3 separate regions of the Homo sapiens genome follow, and regions 1 and 2 are each reported to be linked to region 3. The links are microRNA targets in miRTarBase. Many come from high-throughput screens and were not tested one by one. Region 3 holds a microRNA gene; each other region holds the end of a gene's coding sequence.
Evidence for each region. Region 3 holds the annotated microRNA hsa-miR-606 (AAACUACUGAAAAUCAAAGAU, at 3,530-3,550, shown strand). A microRNA usually pairs through its seed, bases 2 to 8, with sites in the 3' UTR of a target mRNA and lowers its output. Matches are read on the target gene's strand: a 7mer-m8 pairs with bases 2 to 8, a 7mer-A1 pairs with bases 2 to 7 and ends in A, and an 8mer does both.

Region 1: the mRNA of WNK1 is a reported target of hsa-miR-606. Seed matches in the 3' UTR shown: 7mer-m8 at 2,420-2,426 and 7mer-A1 at 3,427-3,433.
Region 2: the mRNA of HNRNPC is a reported target of hsa-miR-606. Seed matches in the 3' UTR shown: 7mer-m8 at 2,217-2,223 and 7mer-m8 at 2,374-2,380.

Annotation. Positions count from the first base shown.
Region 1 is chr12:907,082-914,029 of GRCh38, forward strand. WNK1 (WNK lysine deficient protein kinase 1) reads left to right here. Exons shown (of 28, transcript NM_018979.4): 27 at 766-953; 28 at 1,394-4,371. The coding sequence ends at 1,711. RAD52 (RAD52 DNA repair protein) reads right to left here. Exons shown (of 12, transcript NM_134424.4): 11 at 6,813-6,948; 12 at 4,655-6,371. The coding sequence ends at 6,310. Among named protein-coding and RNA genes, the nearest start is that of RAD52, 39 kb to the right of the region's middle. RefSeq lists an enhancer at 6,765-6,948.
Region 2 is chr14:21,206,295-21,213,242 of GRCh38, reverse strand. HNRNPC (heterogeneous nuclear ribonucleoprotein C) reads left to right here. Exons shown (of 9, transcript NM_004500.4): 6 at 126-283; 7 at 1,320-1,433; 8 at 1,677-1,837; 9 at 1,937-4,096. The coding sequence ends at 2,020. LINC00641 (long intergenic non-protein coding RNA 641) reads left to right here and starts at 6,343. Exons shown (of 2, transcript NR_038971.1): 1 at 6,343-6,632.
Region 3 is chr10:75,548,989-75,555,936 of GRCh38, forward strand. It overlaps MIR606 (microRNA 606), which reads left to right and starts at 3,470; the gene lies at 3,470-3,565. The region is part of intron 2 of LRMDA (leucine rich melanocyte differentiation associated); the gene reads left to right.

The DNA of each region.
Region 1 (6,948 bases), not on the chromosome of region 3:
GGCCAAGGCGGGCGGATCACCTGAGGTCAGGAGTTCTTGAGACCAGCCTGGCCAACACGGCAAAACCCTGTCTCTACTAAAATACAAAAATTAACTGGGCATGGTGGTGCACACCTACAATCCCAGCTACTCTGGAGGCTGAGACAGGAGAATCGCTTGAACCCAGGAGGCAGGGGTTGCAGTTAGGTAGGATCGTACCACTGCACTCCAGCCTGAGTAATAGAGTGAGACTCCATCTCAAAAAAAAAAAAAAAGGCTAAAGAATGTGGCAGTGTCCAATGGTTTGGAAACCCACCTTCTCCTTATCCTTAGCCAAGCATCTTTTCCTACTCCTACTTTAACCGTGCCCAATGCACAAGAAAACCTCTTTTTCCCTGCATTCTGCAAAATTCCAGAGCAACTAGCCTTGCTGATTGTATCACACCTCCATCAGCAACGTGATGCTGGGAATAGCGTACTGGCGAGCAGTTCCAATACTCTTAGGTGCTTTGTGAATGGACTGAAAGAGGCCCCTGCCTGTGTACCTACCGTCATCCTGAGTTGTTCAGCCTTAGCAGCAGCTACTGAAGAGAAACTGTTTTCATCACCCTATTATACCAAAACAAATGGCTAAACAAAACCTTGGAATCTTCCCTCTTGCATGGCTTCCCAGTTCATCCTCTTCTCATTCTGTGGCTTGCCATTCATCATCCCGTGAAGTTTTCCCTCTTCCTGAAATTGTAACCTAGGCTTCTTTTAATGCTCGTATTCTGTTGCTTATAATAGGAACCAGCAGCACAAACACTGTTGGGGCAACAGTGAACAGCCAAGCCGCCCAAGCTCAGCCTCCTGCCATGACGTCCAGCAGGAAGGGCACATTCACAGATGACTTGCACAAGTTGGTAGACAATTGGGCCCGAGATGCCATGAATCTCTCAGGCAGGAGAGGAAGCAAAGGGCACATGAATTACGAGGTAAGTCTCTCTTTTGCCGCAGAGAATCCGTAACACACATCTGAGTCAAGGTGATAGAAACAACTAAGCTGCTGCTTAACGTCTTACGCCACGACCTTCTTCAATTTTAATACTTTAGAAAAACAAGGCAAAAATCCCCCAGGTACCCTTTTATTTTTCCTTCCCTGAATTCCTAACCTCTTGTTGGTCAGCTCAACTTTTTCTTCTTCGTTTTTCCTTCGTCATCCTCAACTACACACACACAGACACACACGCACATGACATCCCTCCCTCTCATGAGGATTATTTTCACCCTTACTTGGTAAATATAAAGAGCCAATAAATACTACAGAAGACTGTTCTGCTGTATCTTACAGGATTATACTAGAAGTATATGTTAGCGCCACACATTTTATACCATGGCCCACACCAGACTTGACACGTGGTGGTTTTGTTTTCAGGGCCCTGGAATGGCAAGGAAGTTCTCTGCACCTGGGCAACTGTGCATCTCCATGACCTCGAACCTGGGTGGCTCTGCCCCCATCTCTGCAGCATCAGCTACCTCTCTAGGTCACTTCACCAAGTCTATGTGCCCCCCACAGCAGTATGGCTTTCCAGCTACCCCATTTGGCGCTCAATGGAGTGGGACGGGTGGCCCAGCACCACAGCCACTTGGCCAGTTCCAACCTGTGGGAACTGCCTCCTTGCAGAATTTCAACATCAGCAATTTGCAGAAATCCATCAGCAACCCCCCAGGCTCCAACCTGCGGACCACTTAGACCTAGAGACATTAACTGAATAGATCTGGGGGCAGGAGATGGAATGCTGAGGGGGTGGGTGGGGGTGGGAAGTAGCCTATATACTAACTACTAGTGCTGCATTTAACTGGTTATTTCTTGCCAGAGGGGAATGTTTTTAATACTGCATTGAGCCCTCAGAATGGAGAGTCTCCCCCGCTCCAGTTATTGGAATGGGAGAGGAAGGAAAGAACAGCTTTTTTGTCAAGGGGCAGCTTCAGACCATGCTTTCCTGTTTATCTATACTCAGTAATGAGGATGAGGGCTAGGAAAGTCTTGTTCATAAGGAAGCTGGAGAACTCAATGTAAAATCAAACCCATCTGTAATTTCGAGTGGGTGGAGCTCTTGCTTTTGGTACATGCCCTGAATCCCTCACTCCCTCAAGAATCCGAACCACAGGACAAAAACCACCTACTGGGCTCTCTCCTACCCTGCCCTCCTCCCTTTTTTTTACCCCTCTCTTTTTTATTTTTTCTTTGCTCTTTAGAACCCAGTGAAAAATACCAGGGTACTGGGGTGCAACTCTTTCTTATGATAGGTCATTAGTGCTTTAAGCAAAAGATATTAGCAGCTTTGACTGCAGCATTAGCAATTAGGAAAAAAAAAAAATTAAGTTCCCTGCGGACATGTAACTTTGCCATCAGTTTTGATGTGGAAACACTGTGATATATAAAATGTTGTTGGACAACAGTAGTTTTAAGAGTAAAATATGAAACGTTTAAAAAGTTCCAAAAAAAGCTAGCTCTGTCCTTTACTTATTGAGACACTTTAACTTTTTCCTTTGTATTTCCATTGTATTAGATAAATAAATGTGAATGTAAAATTGTATAAATTACTGTACTTGAATACTTCTGTTTCCCAGTGTTGCTTGCTGGACATTTTAGTGCCTTGGACTTCTATTGCTTCTGCCATTAGCATCAACTTACCAGACCCCAGATCAATAAAGGGCATGTGGAAGGAAATCGTAGGTCCATGTGACCCCAGCAGTCCAGCAGTGGTTATGCCAAAGGGAAATTGAAAAAGTATTTTTTTAAGTCATTCAACAACTTTGTCTAGAGCAGGTGTAAGATGAGTAGGGTGGGAAGTTAGGTTGGCATCAGTGGTTAAAAACAGAAAGTTCTGTTTCGGGAATAGTGAGGAGGGGGTGTTGTAACAAAATTGGACAACTTAAAAGAATGGTGTGTGCTGGGTGAAAGACAAAGACTAAAGAATGAGGAAACAAACGTGATGCCTGGCCAGTGACTGTCATATAAACCTTTCTTATTTGAGCTAGGCTTGAACAGACGTGACCTAGAAGAAACTGAACATAAAGAGAAGGGGGTGGGGGGCTAGTTTTCAAGTTGGGGAACCTGATAGTGAAAAGTCACAGATGGAGAAAATTGCTCTCAGAAAAACTGTTTGGATTGCTTTCCTCTTGTTGCACATGTACCATGCATTTCTCAGCTTGGGGTACTACATTTTGTGGAAAGTTAATCTATCTATCTTTCCACATCTGAATTAATCATTCTAGGAAAGAATACTTATTCCTACTCATTTCCTTTATGATGTCCAAATGGTTGCAGGATCATAATCTATTGTGCCACCTTTATTTCTAGAAGTACAACTAATATGTTCACATTTTCAAATAAATAATACTCCCCGTAAGTAATAACTGCAACCAATCAGTGTTATTCAGTGCTATGCCTCCTTGTAATGGGTAGTTATTAATTATTTTCAGAGCTTTCCGGAAATACTGTCCTAACTGGCTATGTTTAGGATCTTTGTTATCTCTGAAGACAAAGAAAGAAGCTAGGACTCTTAATTTTGGGGTGCTTCTTGACTCTTAGTTGGGAAACTGAAAATATTTCCAACCTTTTACCCACGTCAATGGCATATTCTGGGAATCACCACCACCACCACCACTACCACAGAAAGAGGCTGGAGGCTCCTGTACCCTGTTCATTCCTTAAGGGCCCTGCTTCCCTTAGTAAGTAAGTAAGTTGGTCTACGGCCCTAAATATGCAAATGAGAGCTGAAGGTTTTTAAAAGGTAGAAAGGAAAAGGGCAAGGGCTTCCACCCCTGCTTTAAAATGATTTATTTATTCTCTGCTTGTATTTCTTGTGGAGAGAGTAAGGATAGAACCAACAAGGGGCTGAGTAGCTGAGAAAGGGGCCACCCAAGAGTGAAACATACTTTATACCAGAGGAGCAGTGGAGCCTCATGCAGCACATTATCATTTGTTATTTGGGTTTAATAATAATTTTGACATCTTTTCACTCATACACAAAAAAAGTCAGAACTGGTGTTATTTACTGTTGATTTCATCCTCCTGTGTATGAAATAACAAGCCTAGAGGAATGAACTAGTGCTACTGAACTGTTTAAATTATTTTTGTGTTAATAGTACACTTTGAGTATCTTTTTCCACATTAAAAACTTTCTGAATTATAAATGTTTTCCTTACATTATTTAACAATGTACACTGTTAAAAATAAAAATAAAAATTCAAACTTTGGGGGTTTCTCAGCAGCCGTTAATTGTACATTTTGCACTAACTCTGGGTGTTGCGCTTCTTGTAAGATTGCGCTTTGTGCTTCAGTTTGTTACCTTTGTAGACTTATTTAATGAAACCATTCAAATAAACCAAACTTGCTTTTGTTGAGCTGTGGGGTTTCATTTCCAGAAGATTCCTTCACATTCTCACTGGCACTATTTTGAGTTAAGTGCAATTTATAACTGGATCCCTAATTCCTGGGAGCTCCTTTGCTGTCTCCTTAACTTCGAAAGGAATAGAAACGGTCGGCTGCCGGCTAGTACTTTCAGACTTCCTTATCTCAGGTTCACAGCTTCCCAAATGGGTCTGAGCCAAAAAATAGGAAGTCACTGCTTCAAGATTAGCCACAGCCCAGCCCAAAATAATACGTCTAAAAAAATTATTAAATTGGCTGGGCGCAATGGCTCATGCCTATAATTCTAGTACTTTTTACTTTGGGAGGCCGAGGTGGGCAGATCACTTGAGGTCAGTTTGAGACCAGCCTGGCCAACATGGAGAAACCCCGTCTCCTCTACTAAAAATACAAAAATTAGTCGGGCGTCGTGGTGGGTGTCTGTAATCCCAGCTACTCGGGAGCCTGAGGCAGGAGAATTGCTTGAATCCTGGCAGGCGGAGGCTGCAATGAGTCAAGATGGCACCGCTGCACTCCAGCCTGCGCTACAGAGCCAGACCCCCCCTCTCAAAAAAAAAGTTGTTAAACTGCAAACTTCATTATTTTGGGGGAAGAATTATGAAACATCTGAGCACTATGAAAAGCCAATTTATGGTCAAGGTGGGTTACATCTCACACCTGAAATGGGGAAGTAGAAACAGTTGCGTTTGAGCATCCCTAATTGAAATGCTCTGAGATCAGAAAATTTCTGAGCACTGACGTGATGCCAGAAGTGGAAAATTCCACACGTGACCTCGTGTGACAAGTCGCAAAGCACCAGGCATACAACAGTTTATGCAGCGACCCTAAGAGAAAAAAAAACCCAGCCCTCTTCAGCTGCAGTGTATCTTCTTATACAAAAACTCTGTTTCATGCACAAAATTATGTGTATGAGGCATATACACGAAACACAGGTGAATTCCACGTTCAGACTTGGGTCCCATCCCCAAGGTCTCATTATGTGTATACAAATATTCAAAAAATGCAAAACAATTCTGGTTTCAAGCATTTCAGATAAGCAATATATATATATTCTATTTTGTTAATAAGGTATACGATTTGCTTTCTCAAAAATGCCTTTTCTGGCCAGACACAGTGGCTCACACCAGTAATCCCTGTATTTTGTAAGGCAGAGGTGGGAGTATCACTTGGGCCCAAGAGGTTGTGGAGAGAGCTGTGTTTGCACCACTGAACTCCAGTCAGGGCAACACAGCCAGACCCCGTCTCAAAAAAAAAAAAAAAAAAAAAAACAAAAAACAGCCTTTTTTCGTGGTCTTAGATGATTATTTCCTTCCTTAGGAAAAAATGTCAGTCTTGAAACAATGCAGGATTGTAATGTCATAAATCCATAAATTATTTATATTAAATGAAGATTGTAGCCTGGATTGATACAAAGTAGTGAAAAGCACTGCTCCAACCTTTTTCCTGTCGTGATCCACAGTGCTTAATGTGGGCAACATTAAAGGCATGGACCGTAAAGGAAAGAAGGCAGACGTTATGCAAAACAACTGAATGTAGACAATTGCTGAGGCAGGTGCTTAGGACCAAGTCTGGCCTATATTGCTTGAGGGCAAGGAGCCATTGGTGATTCCTAAAATGTCCATCTTCATTAACATAATAGTTCAGTAATAAATAGTGGGAAGCCTCACAAGCCGAAGAAAAGGTATTCATCTGTCCAGAGCCTCTCCCTACTAGAGTGATGGACAAGCTTTTCAAAAGTGCTCAGCTCTAACTGCAGTGGGCTCTCAGTCAGATCCTCTTGATAAGGTTCAGAATGAAGCAAGATAAATCGCAATGACGTTCATTCTCCAGCAGCGATGAACAATTTCATGACCAAAAAGTAGTTTTCCAAAGTCCCTTTGTGACAGAGTCCAATTATGTGGCCTGAGCCTCAGTTAAGATGGATCATATTTCCTTTTCTTCATGTCCTGGCTCTTCCTATGAGATTCCCAGTTTCCTATGGAAGACAAAATGGCTTAAATGTAGCTGCCATAATTTTAAAATAAACTGACAGCTAATGATTTCTGGATTATATTAATGATCCTAATTTAGACTAAGCCCAAGAATGAGAATTACTGTTAGGAGGAAGGCAGATGATTCTCCTAGACCAAGTGGCCTCGTGCTCATGACAGACCTGCTGCTGGGAGGGACAGCTCTCCATGCAGTCGTTTCCGCTTCCTGCTATTATCAGGAGCTGAAAAGGGCTGCACCTGAAGTCAGGAGCCCAAAGGAAACGTTCTGGCTCTTAAATCAATTCTGTTCTACTTGCAGTACCATTCCCTAATAGAAGTTCCCGATTCTATCAAACTTTAAATGAAATGTCATCCTTCCTCAAAAATTCCCAGAATTAAAGCTAGGATCTCCCCTTAATTTTTGTGCCTAAACACCTCTCTGCTACCTGTTGTGCGTTGGTCAGCGCTATAAGTTTGGAGGTCCCAAGATCCAGATTTTGCTTGTGGTTTCTGGTGGCAAACGCTGTGTGGAGTCCTGTTCTGGGTCACCATCTGGTTGTTCAAGGCTAATGTGTCAGAGGT
Region 2 (6,948 bases), not on the chromosome of region 3:
TAATGAAATTTAATAAAAGGAAACGACTAGAGACAATATTCACTTACTATTTATCATAAGGTCTGTTGAATTGTGCTGAGTTAATGTTAGGTTTGAATGAATTCCATTTTCCTCTTATCCAATAGGATGTACAGTTACCCAGCACGTGTACCTCCTCCTCCTCCTATTGCTCGGGCTGTAGTGCCCTCGAAACGTCAGCGTGTATCAGGAAACACTTCACGAAGGGGCAAAAGTGGCTTCAATTCTAAGAGTGGACAGCGGGGATCTTCCAAGTCTGGAAAGTGTATGTATTATTTCATTTTGTGATTTTGGTATCTCTTGTGTTTTGAGATAGGGAAGCTAATGCAGTTACAATATTTTTGTGCCACATGACTTTGTGTATTCAAAATAATGGAAGAGGCTGGGTGTGTGGTGGCTCATGCCTGTAATCCCAGCACTTTGGGAGGCCCAGCGGGTGGATCAGCTGAGGTCAGGAGTTCAAGACCAGCCTGTCCAACATGGAGGAACCCCATCTCTACCGAAAATACAAAAAATTTGCCGGGGATGGTGGTGCGTGCATGTAATCCCAGCTAATTGGGAGGCTGAGGCAGGAGAATCGCTTTTACCCAGGAGGCGGAGGTTGCAGTGAGCCGAGATCATGCCATTGCACTCCAGCCTGGGTGACGAGCAAAACTCCATCTCAAGAAAAAAAAAAAAATCCAAAATAACAGAGGAGACAAGATTGTGATTGAGTGGCCAATTCTAGACTGCAACAGCTAGGTAATTTAAAAAATGTCATTTGACTTTATGTAGTTGAGGTGTGCGTTAAGTTCCTGAGATTTTTTTGTGTTATTTAAAAACTAAAATTCAGACAGTGTTCAGTATGTTGATTTTTTTTAACTTTTCTATATTGAACTCCTCCTGTAACTGGAAATATGGAAGGCAGTAAAACATTACAGAAGGTCTGATGCAGTGGTGCGTGCCTGTAGCCCCAGATGCTTAGGGGGAGGCTAAGACCCTGGGGATCTAGGCTGTAGTGGGAGGATTTCATGAGGCCAGGAGTTTAAGTTCACTGTGATCATACGTGTGAATAGTCACTGTCCTCAGGCCTGGTCAACATAGCGACAGCCCTGATCTAAAAGACATTAAAAACAATAAAAACCATTACAGAACGTGCTTTATAATAGAACCAAGGGCCTTTATTACCGAGAAATCTGTACTGGCTCTGTTTCTCCCTGGGTATCTCCTGTGAGCTCCTGATGTAGTCTGGTGGCAGTGTATTTGCTAACTCATATCTTCGGTACATTTGATTTTAATCTAGTATTTTGTTTATATTAAAGTGAAAGGAGATGACCTTCAGGCCATTAAGAAGGAGCTGACCCAGATAAAACAAAAAGTGGATTCTCTCCTGGAAAACCTGGAAAAAATTGAAAAGGAACAGAGCAAACAAGCAGGTAAATGGGTTTTCTGCTTGCCCTTGGTATACAGTTGGGTTAGTTACATAAGGCACTTGAAAGTACATGTTGGAATAGTGGAATATAAAGCAATGTAATATGAAACTTGGGGAGTGTGAATTGGGAAGGGTATTTGTGTGGGAGGATTTAGATTTGTGCTGCAGTTCTGTGATCCTTAGTGGGGATTGTCTACGTCCTGTGGACATTACTGCCCCTAGACAGACTTGTCCTTCTCATCCGCAGTAGAGATGAAGAATGATAAGTCAGAAGAGGAGCAGAGCAGCAGCTCCGTGAAGAAAGATGAGACTAATGTGAAGATGGAGTCTGAGGGGGGTGCAGATGACTCTGCTGAGGAGGGGGACCTACTGGATGATGATGATAATGAAGATCGGGGGGATGACCAGGTGAAAACCACGGGAAAGGAAAGAAAAAGGTGGTGGAGGGGGGCTCAGGGACACATGGAGTGCCTCTAACTCCATCCTGTTTGTGTCTGTTTCTCACAGCTGGAGTTGATCAAGGATGATGAAAAAGAGGCTGAGGAAGGAGAGGATGACAGAGACAGCGCCAATGGCGAGGATGACTCTTAAGCACATAGTGGGGTTTAGAAATCTTATCCCATTATTTCTTTACCTAGGCGCTTGTCTAAGATCAAATTTTTCACCAGATCCTCTCCCCTAGTATCTTCAGCACATGCTCACTGTTCTCCCCATCCTTGTCCTTCCCATGTTCATTAATTCATATTGCCCCGCGCCTAGTCCCATTTTCACTTCCTTTGACGCTCCTAGTAGTTTTGTTAAGTCTTACCCTGTAATTTTTGCTTTTAATTTTGATACCTCTTTATGACTTAACAATAAAAAGGATGTATGGTTTTTATCAACTGTCTCCAAAATAATCTCTTGTTATGCAGGGAGTACAGTTCTTTTCATTCATACATAAGTTCAGTAGTTGCTTCCCTAACTGCAAAGGCAATCTCATTTAGTTGAGTAGCTCTTGAAAGCAGCTTTGAGTTAGAAGTATGTGTGTTACACCCTCACATTAGTGTGCTGTGTGGGGCAGTTCAACACAAATGTAACAATGTATTTTTGTGAATGAGAGTTGGCATGTCAAATGCATCCTCTAGAAAAATAATTAGTGTTATAGTCTTAAGATTTGTTTTCTAAAGTTGATACTGTGGGTTATTTTTGTGAACAGCCTGATGTTTGGGACCTTTTTTCCTCAAAATAAACAAGTCCTTATTAAACCAGGAATTTGGAGAAAAAAAAAACCCTGGTTTTTTATTTTTGTATTTTATTATTGTTTACTTCAAACTTTGTTTTACAGCGTCCTCCACAAAACCTCTAGAATGCACTAGATATATTTTTCTTGGAGTCATAATCATGATGCATACCAACACAACACTACTCAAATTATATTTCATTGAGATGCATGTTGCATTGAGGAGTCAACTTGACATAGAGTGGAGACTTTTTCAAAATGGCTTTTACATCCTAATGAAAGTTTGGGAAGTATATCCTCTCTGCCTTTTCATCAGTGCTTTGTGGTCCAGCTGGCACCCTTTCTGAGGTTTGTGTTTTGTGCTAAATGGTTTTGTCCTTAAATAGGAGAGGCTCAAAAACATCAAGATTTCAGGAAAATGGCGACAGCTGCATAATGGAACCCCCCTGCTTCTATTTTGTTCTTTTAATTACTATTTATAGCCCCAGTTACCTTCTGAATTCTGAAGTGTATATACCTCCATGTTCCTGAAAACAAGAAAACTCTTACTTCCTGATATTCCATAGACTGCCTTCCCAGGTGATTGAGAACATAGAGAATGTTACACATTTATTTTACTCTAAATGATCTTTTACCCCTGTTAGCTAATCTTTGTGTTTTCCTCAACTTTATTAATTACAGTGATTGCATTTTTAGCATCCAGTTGTAAGATGAATATATTAAACAGCTACCAGTGTTGGTGATACCTCATCCTTGAAAGGCTTAGTTCATTTGTGTTTTATACTTCAGTTTTTCCAGCATAGCAGAAAATGCCGCTTATAATTTTTGTGCACACAAACCTTGGATTCCCCTGTAAAGTTGCTATTGTTTCATAGCATGCGGCACTGGCCTTTTTTCATCCTACTCATTACAGGCAAAACTCATGTCTTATTTATGAGGATTTTATAGATCATTTTCTGTAACAGGTGACAAAAGCAGAAAAGAATGAAGAGGCTGAAGTATGAACTACCCTTGGAGCCCATATACATGATATAGGCAATTTCTTTTGTATGTTAATTCAGTCAAAAATACTACCCACTTGATGTTTTCTAATCTGATGTGAGCTCATGTTACACAGACTTTTAGTAAGTAACCCGTGACTAGAAAATAAACTGGATGCTTAGGAGAGAGTGTCAGATGTATAAGATGCTAATAAAACCTGTTTAATATTATTGTTAGCTGTAAGTTTTTGGGAAATACTGAACAAATTAGTCCACAATCAAGTGTCTACTTTTCCCTTCACTGTAGGGCCTCTCCCTGCACAGAGCAGTCTGTTTAGCTGTGAACACCACAATCTGCAGATGTTCAAGTCCCTTACATAAAATGGCATAGTATTTATATGTAACCTATGCATATTCTCCTGTATATTTTAAATCATCTCTACATTAAAATACCTGATAAAATGTAAATGGTATGTAAATAGTTGTAACTTTTTTTATTTATATTTTTGTTAACTTTTTTTAGTTTTTTTTCTTTGCTAGTATTTTCGATCTGTAGTTGGCTGAATCTGCATGTGCAGAACCCATGAACATGGGGGGCCAACTATACATTTTATTCTAGGAAAGCAGGTATTGAATGAAGCTGTGGAGAGCGCTTTTTAATATTAGGTTGGTGCAAAAGTAATTGTGGCTTTTGCCATTACTTTTAATTAGCTGCAGTTACTTTTGCAAATAGCCGTAGAGCATGATCACAGATTGAAAATCTATACACACATATGGTAGGGTTGTTGGAATACTGACATGTCTAGTTTGTGTTGATGGGGAAGTCATTTCACGCTCTTGGTTTTAGGCTACGCTACTGTGGCTTAAATTTCCTCGTGTTTAAGACAACAGTACTCTAGGTTTTCTATAATCACAGGTGTACTCATTGAGTACTTTGACATTTAGGTTCCTAGGCCAAAACTGTAGCAAAGTAAAGAGACCAGGATTGAAATACCACATGGTAAAAGGCTTTTAAAAATCTGATCTAATGCAGATAAGTACAGGCTTTTTGGGAAAGGGGCTAGTGTTTTTAAAGGCCATTTATCAGATGATATGCTTATAGTCAGTGTGACATTACTTAACCCTGGGCCCTGCAAAGTAAGAATTGAGTTGGCTCAATAGAAATTCAGAATAGTAGGCATGGCAGTGCAGGTAAAGGGGTTAGATCTGACGGTAATAATTGAGTGATTTCTGATTTAATAATTGAGGGATTTCAGATTGATAGTCTGATTACACTGCAGTAGTGGAAGTAAGATTTAAAAGTAAAAACATTTTAATTTGGGATAAAATTCAGAACACAAGTTTCTCAATATGCCATGAAATCTAAGAAAATGTCCTGCAATCATTCAAGAATGCAGTTTTCATTTCAGGGTTAGAAAGCAGGAGAGGAGGTAGATAAAAAATCCTTAGTAACATTTTTTTCTGGTGCTGCATAACGTATAATTGGGAAACTTCTTCTAGGGTAATTAATAAATTGCTGCTGTCTCAGTGGGATGAGCTAACTGGAAGCTGTCAGGTGGGAATGGATGCTAAATTTGGGATTCTCAAAAGGAGGGCTCCTCTTGTATTTCACTTCTGATGTTAATATTACCCCAACATGCAAAGATTGTGTGATTAGTACCTATTACTTACGTGGTTTAAATCCTCTTTTTCAGAGGGAACCGGGTGTAATAGAAAAGGAAAATAATGTAAATGGGAACAAAAAGGTGGTAAATTGGAAGGAAATGAACAGGTGTCAAATTAGGATTGGGAAGAATGTAATAGTACAATAGACGTAACCATCATTTAAACCATAAGATAACCATGAAGTGTGAACATACGAATCTACTATAACTTGGCAGTATGTTTTATTCAAGTGTTAGGGGAAGCAAAACCCAGTGTATAATATAGAAAGTACAGAAGTAGAGCAGATGATACACTATATGCAAGTACTAGTGTTTTGAGATAACCTTGATGAAACAATGTGCTTTTGAAAGTAGTCGCAGGATAGAGAAATTGTGTATATTTAATGTGATCAGCTCAGGAACATATGCCTGGCCTGTCAGCATTGACTGACCAATTTTATTTCAGGGGAAAACCAGAAAACATACTTATTCCTACTGACAGTTGACCTTTTTATTTATTAGGGGAATTCAGCTACACTGATGTCAAATGGAGTTTCAGTTTCTGGACCCTAGTTCACATCACATTGACCAAAAAAATGCATTTCATAGGAATTTAGAAGCATCCAAGAAAAAGTACCCTGACCAGAAAACCAGTCGACAGTAGTAAACATATGATGTAGAAATGATTGACCAGTAAATGAGTTACATATAATATGTGGATTATGGTCTGAGTACCTCATTCACACTAAGAAGGAGCACTCTGTTGGAGAATTCTAGTGTTTGGAGAGAACTTGGTATAAAGTAAAAATGTAGCCAGTTGAACTGCAGAGTAAAAGAACGTAGACATACCTGACCAGACAAAAGCTTTCCAAGTGTTAGGAGACAGGAAGTAAATAAAGTAGAAAACTGCAGAATTTGTGTTTGCATTAGTAACTTTCAAGTTAAATCTCAATTTTGAAAAGCAGGGCTTCTTCATTGGAGTTAACGCCCTTTGTGAGTAGAACTACAAAGCATAGTAAGAGGAAGGGGAGAACAGTGTAAGGGGGTGAATGCAAATGACAAAGGGATTAGTAGGAAGGAGTTAGAACCCAAGATAAATGCAGATAGGAAGAGGAAAGCATGTTTGGATTGTTTTTTTCAAGTGGCACTCAGAAATAAAAGTTTGGAGAAACATGGCTCTGAAGCTCTGACAAATTTGCATTTGCAAAAATAACTCCTACAAGACTTTCAGAAGTCTAGGAAAATTGTGGCTTTTGGATTATTACATTACCAAATTTGTGGAGTTTAATAGGTTTCAACTGTCAATGTGCATTAAAATTTCCTGGGAGCAGGGGGATGGGCTTTTAAATTCTGATGTCCAGGTGTGTGCTCCAGGCCTACTAAATCTCTGGGGTTGGGACTCTTCGTTGTTTTTTAAGTTGCCATAATTCCAATTTTTGGCCCAAATTGTGAACTACTCACCAAAGGCAAAACAAAACAAAAAACCCTGTGTGATAAAGAGGGGTGAGGATTAGGAAAGGACACGGGTTTCAAGAAACGGTGGCTGGGTGGCTGGCCAATAAGTTTAGTAGAGGGATGACTGTATATGTCAGAATTAAGTGCAGTAAGAGGATGTGTGAGTGGTATGTTTTCATCAAAGAACTGAAGGCAGCTAAAAGGGCCAAGGTGTACCCTCAT
Region 3 (6,948 bases):
ATATCCACTGTTTCTGCATCCACCAATTCAACCAACTACAAATTGAATATTCAATCTGAAATGGAATCATACAGTATTCACCCTTTTGTGTGCCTAGTTTCTTTCACTCAAAAGCATAATGCTTTTGAGATTCATCCATGTGGTTGCATGTATTACTAGCTTGTTTCTTTTTATTGTTGAGTAGTATTCTATTGTGTGAATGTATCAGAATTCTTGACACGTTCACCATTTGATGGCTGTTTGGATTGTTTAAAGTTTTAGCTATTTTGAATAAGCAGCAATAAATATTTGCTCAGAATATTCAATCAATTGAATATTGGGATGTTTGATCTGGAATGCAGATCCTGCACATATGAAGGGCTGCCTGTAAAGGACTTGAGCATGCTTAGATTTTGGTATTTGTGGGGTGTCCTGGAACCAATCTCCCATACCAACAGACCACTGTATTTAAATTTGTTTTTAATTTTATTTATTTGTATATATTTTTAGAGACAAGGTATTGTTACATTGTCTAGGTTATTCACAGGCACAGTCACAGCATACTACAACCTCAGACTCCTGGGCTAAAGTGATCCTCCTGCCTCAGCCTCCTGAGTAGTTGAGACTACAGGTACATGCCACTGCTTCAGGTTATTTTTTATTTTTGAAGTCAGATTTAGTGAGATATAATTTATGCACAATTAATTCCCTTTCTAAGTGCACAGATGATTTTTGACAAATGCATACAGTCATGTAACCACCATCATCATAATCAAGACGTAACATTTTTATCGCCATAAAAAGTTTCCTTGTGCCCACTTTTCAATCTCCTTTCTCCTTCCTTGGCTCATGGCATGCACTGATGTAATTATTGTCTCAGTGGCTTTGCCTATCCCCAGAATGTCATAAAAATGGAATCATACAGTATTCACCCTTTTGTGTGCCTAGTTTCTTTCACTTAGCATAATGCTTTTGAGATTCATCCATGTAGTTGCATGTATCACTAGTTTGTTTCTTTTTATTGTTGAGTAGTATTCTATTGTGTGAATGTACCACAATTCTTGACACATTCACCATTTGATGGCTGTTTGGACTGTTTAAAGTTTTAGCTATTTTGAATAAGCAGCTATAAACATTTGCTCAGAAACTAGTCTGTCTTAGTGAATGTTCCATGGGCCCTTCAAAAGAATGTGGATTCTGCTATTGTTGGTTGGAATCGTCTATAGATGTCAGTTAATTCAATTTGGTTGATAGTGTTGTTCAGGCTTCTATATCTTTACTTATTTTTGATCTACTTTTTATATAAATTACTAAGAGAGGAGTATTCAAGTCTCCTATTCTTCCTGGTTTTTGTCTACTTCTTTCAGTTTGATCAGATTTTTCTTTATGTATTTTGGAACTCTGTTGTTAGATGCATACATATACATTAGTTATATCTTCTTGATGAACTGAGTCTTTGTTCCTAAACATATTCCTTGTTCTGAAACCTACTTTGTATTATGTTATTATACAGACTGGAGTTTTTGTGTAATGTTTGTGTTGTATCTATTTTTTCACTGTTAATATATGTCTCTGTGTTTATATTTATAATGAATTTCTTTTAGAGAGCATATAGTCAGGTCTTGCTTTCATAACGAGTCTGATTATATCTGCTTTTTAATTTGGAATGTTTAGGCCATTTATCCTTAATGTAACTATTGGTATAGTTGGTTTTGAGTCTACCATTTTGCAAATTGTTTTCTATGTGTCTTATATGTTCTCTATTTCCTTCTTTTCCTGCCTTCTTTTGAATTATTTGTATATATTTATGATTTCATTTCATCTCCACCACTGGCTTATAAGTTTACTCCTTTTAAAAATGTTCTAGTGATTGCTTTAGGGTGTACAGTATATATATTTAACACAGTTTACCTTCAGATAATACATTGCTTTATTTATAGTTTAAGAATCTTACAATGGTACTCTTCCATTTTCTTCTTTCCATCCTTTGTTCTATTGTCTACATTTTACTTTTACATATGTTATAAACTCTACTGATCATTGGTACTATCTTTTCTTTAGACAGCAATTATCTTTTTTTTTTAACCTGGGAAAATGTTTTTTTTACTTGATTAATAGGAAAATGAAAATATTCTGTTTAAATATTTTCTAGTTTAATCTATTTGCAAACTAAATATATTTTGCAGTCAGCTATCTTTTTTTTTTTTTTTAACCTAGGATTTGAGGAAGGATGTTCCACAGAAATAGAACAGTATGAACACAAGTAGAGCAACAAAAGAAAGTGTGGTTCAACCTTACCAGGAGATATGTAGGTGTAGAAGCACTAAAAAGTAAGACCATGGAGGGCCTGGCTTACTTGATATTTATTTATTTATTTTTTATAATACTTTAAGTTCTGGGGTACATGTGCAGAACATACGGGTTTGTTACATAGGTATACACGTGCCATGGTGGTTTGCTGCACTCATTAACCCATCATCTACATTATGTATGTCTTCTAATGCTACCCCTCCCCTAGCCCCCATCCCCCAACAGGCCCCAGTGTGTGATGTTCCCCTCCCTGTGTCCATGTGTTCTAATTGTTCAGCTCCCACTTATGAATGAGAACATGTGGTGTTTGGTTTTCTGTTCTTGTGTTACTTTGCTGAGAATGATGGTTTCCAGCGTCATGCATGTCCCTGCAAAGGACATGAACTCATCCGTTTTTATGGCTGCATAGTATTCCATGGTGTATACGTGCCACATTGAGTCAGCTATTTTTTTTGAGAGGCTAAAATTAAGAAAAAATTTGCTGGGCACTGTGGCTTATGCCTGTAATCCCAGCACTTTGGGAGGCTTAGGTGAGAGGATCGCTTGAGGCCAGGAGTTTGAGACCAGCCTGGGCAACATAGTGAGACCCATTCTCTACAAAACATTAAAAAAAATATTAGCTGGGTGTGGTGGCTCAAACCTGTAGTTCCAGCCTCTTGGTAGACTGAGATAGGAGGATTGCCTGAGCCCAGGAGGTCAAGGATTCAGTGAGCTGTGATTGCACCACTGCACTCCAGCCTGGGCAACAGAGTTAGACACTGCCTAGGCAACAGAGTTAGACCGTGTCTCTAAAAAATAAAAGAAATAAAAACAATCTGTCTTTTATTATCCACATTTTAATCATTTCTAGAGCTCTTTCTTTCTGTAGATCTGAATTTCCTTCTAGTACCAGACTCCTGCCTGAGGTCTTTATTTAACATCATCATAGTATGGTATGTTGGCAATGAATTTTTTCAGTTTCTGTGTGTCTGAAAAATTCTTTATCTTACCTTCATTTTTTAGCAGATACTTTCACTTGTATAGAATTCCATGTGGACAGTTTTTTCTGTCAGTGCTTTAATGGTGTCACTCCATTTTCTTTTGCATTGCATTCTTTCTGTTGAGCAGTGCGCTGTCATTCTTAGCTTTGTTCTGTGTTTTTTTTTTTTCCCCCCCCTCTGGCTGCTTTCAGAATTTTCACTGTATCCTTGGTTTTTAGTAGTTTTACTATGATGAGGTGTGCCATCCACCCCATCATAGTAAACTACTGAAAATCAAAGATACAAGTGCCTGACCACTTCTACCCCTCATCCCCTACTTGGGATTTTCTGAGGTTCTTTGAACTGTGGTTTGCTCTTTTTAATTAATTTTGGAAAATTCGTAGCTATTATCTCTTCAAACTTTTTTTTTCTGCTTCCTTTTCTCTCTCTCCTACTTTTGGGATTCAAAATATATGTTATACTGTTTACTATTATCCTATAGCTCTCATATGCTTTTTTTTTTCCTTGTTATTATTTTGGATCATTTCTACTCACCTATCTTCAAGTTTGTAAATCATTTTCTCTGCTGTGTTCAGTTTGTTGATAAACCTTATGATGAAATTCTTCCTTTTTGTTATCCTTTTGATTTCTAGCCTTTCCATTTGACTCATTTTAAAGAAAAAGTTTCCATTTCTCTTTTACAATTATTTATTCATTCATGTTGTCTACCTTTTTCTCTAGATTAAAAACTTAATTATAGTTATTTTAAGTCCCTATCTGATAATTTTAACATCTGCATCACATCTGTTTCTGGTAATGTTGACTACTTTATCTTTTGACCAAGAGTCTTCATTTTTTTTCTTGCTTTTTGTCTGATAATTTTTGATTCAATGCCAGATAATGCATATAAAAGAACAGTAGAGACTGAGGCAAATAGTATTTATGCTTGGAAATGGAGACTCTTCTGTTGGGATGTTAGTGTGGGTAGTTGAGTCAATGCAGTCAGTAATTGAGCTAGATCTGAGTTTTGTTCTATGACAGCTTCAAATTCTTCCAGTGGTGGCTTGCTGCTACCTTTGCTTAGTGGTGAGCCTGGAGAGATGAAGGGTTTTCCTCAAGTTTCCATTTCATCCTCAGCTTTCAGCTGGTCCCATATGCTTACTCTAGAGAATGGGTCTCTCTCAATGCTGTTGCCCCTCTTTGAGGGCTAGACTGCTGTTGCTTATTACTCAGTGTGAAGCTTGTGGTGTGGTGGAGGATCTCAGTCTTAGGTAGGCCCTGTGTATCTGGGTCCCAGGTATGAGACTTTTTCTGTCTCATATTTGTTGGGACTCTTGGGTAGGAGAGCATTTTCTGTCCCTCCTCCAGGGCAGCAGGCCTCTATATCTATGCAAGATTCTGTAACTGAAAAGGTTTTCTACCCCTTCACCCAGAGGCAGACATATTTTGCTTCTATCTCTCCTTTAGTTAAAGCGCACCTTTTAAGGAGGAAGTGGCTTCCTCCTTAGTGGCTTATGACTTCTCTTTTTTATGAGAGAAGGGCCTGGGAAGTAGGCAAGATTTCATGCCTGTGCACAGTGTAGGGGGCTCTCTTTTATCTGTTGTTTGGTCTTAATCTCTCTTGTGAGCACCATGGGGAAAAAAATGAGGAGTGAGTGCAGACTCTCCTTGTGGCTGGGGCTCTTGGGAATTCTAAACTTTCTTGTTAGCCCATATCCAACATTAAAAAATTTGTTAAAATGTTAGCTGTTTTCTTTTTATTTACTTTTTTGATGGCTACCTTTTCAATCTGTCCTCTGCTAAAGAAGAAATGCTTTGTGTGTTCTATCTGTTCTTGGAGGGACTAGTCACACTTTGAAATTAAGTTCACCATTTGCCTTGCAACCTCAGCTCTCTGATGGGTTGGAGAAAAGTTATGATTTTGTAGATTATCTGGCTTTTTCCTTTTAGTATGGGAGTGATGCTTATTTGTAGTTTTCTGCATCCTGAGAAGTAATGGAATTCCTAGATGATATTTTAAGTGACACTGGTCAGTTGCAGTGTGTCCAGGGTGATCAGGAGGATTCTAGAAATCCTTCCAAATGGGAAGCAATGAAACAAACAAGGAACATTTATACTGCAGAAGAGAAATGATGTTGGAGAGAGGAACATGGTGTATGATAGTCACTGTACATAGCTGTGAGATTGATGTGATGAGGTAGGTGTAGACTTTTACCTGACATTTCTAATGGCATTAATCAATTAACCGATCAGTTATTTAGCCCCTCCTCTGTGCTAGGTACTAGGAATGCAAAGACAAATGAGTTCCTATCACTACTCTTAGGAGCTCCCAATCTAGAATTATGAATTACAGCTAATGATGGTAATTATAAGGTGGCAGACTTCAGTTTAATCTAAGAAAGAACTTGCCAATGTTTAAAGACGTTGAAAGTGGGATAGACAATGTGGAACGGATGTGAGCTTTTAGAGTTGTAGTGACCAAAATTCAAAACCTGGCTGTACTATTTTCTAGAAGAGAGAACATAGGCAAGTTAACATCTTTCTTTGAGGCCTAGTTTCCTCATCTGTAAAATGAGGATGATAATACTTTCGTTAAAGGATGATTGAGTAGATGCAAAGAAATGAAGTATGTAATGTGTCCAAGTCATTTACTTTTCTTTTTATATTTCCTTAAAGTTGTATACTCTTGTCAGTAGAGAGATTTAAGCAGAATATCAGCCAGGGTGGAGTGGATTCTTGTTCTCCTCCATAGGAGATGGGACAGGATGATCTACTGGTCCTTTTCAGTTAGTCCTGAGGGGCTGGGATTTAAGCATCCATGGGTATCTGATGAGAAGGGACAGTCTCTGATTCTGATGGGGAGGAGTTTGGTGGGCCCTGGGCTGTCTGCTCTCCATGGCCCTATGAGAGAGTTCTAGAGAAAACTATGGAGCAACCACACTTTTCTTACATGATTACTAAGGGAGAAGATGCAGGCAGCTACCGGAAGGGGAGCTGACTCTTGGAAGAAGGGAAAGGCTTAGGGTGAATTTCTCATTTTCTACAGCTTTTCTCTTGAGTACAGCCTTCAGTCTGTGCCATGTGGGAAGATAGATAACTTGATAGAAAATATGTATCTTGGTTGGCTTGGATAACCAGAGACTAGAGTTCAGGACAACCTTAGCTGCTGGAAGGAGTGGGGTCTCTGAAAGGAGTGAGCCACAGAGTGGAGCCCCAAATTCCATGTATAAAATCTACCTAAATCTAAGCTGGACTTTGAACTTCATGTGTGGTGCAGATTCCACACTGGCTAGATAAGGCTGAAACAATTGAACTGAAATATGAACTGCTGCCTACCTTAGGGGAGACAGTGTTTTGCAGTTTGATTTCAGTGAAGTTAACTGTGTGCTTTAAAAAAGTGACTTCAAAGAAAATTAGGAGAAGCTGTAGTTTCTACAACATATCATTCAAGAGATCCAGGATGCAACCTAAAATTACTTACTGCATGACGAAACACAATCAACAGAGATCAACTGCAGGAATACCTGGATGATGGAATAGCAAGCAATGATTTGATGAAAGTAGCTGTTATAAGTGTGCCCAAGGACATAAAGGGAAATACATTTGCTCATCATATAGGGAAAGATTGGAAATCCCAGCAGAGAAATAGTGAACATTCTAGGACTGAAAATTATAATATCAAACAAAAAAATTCACTGGA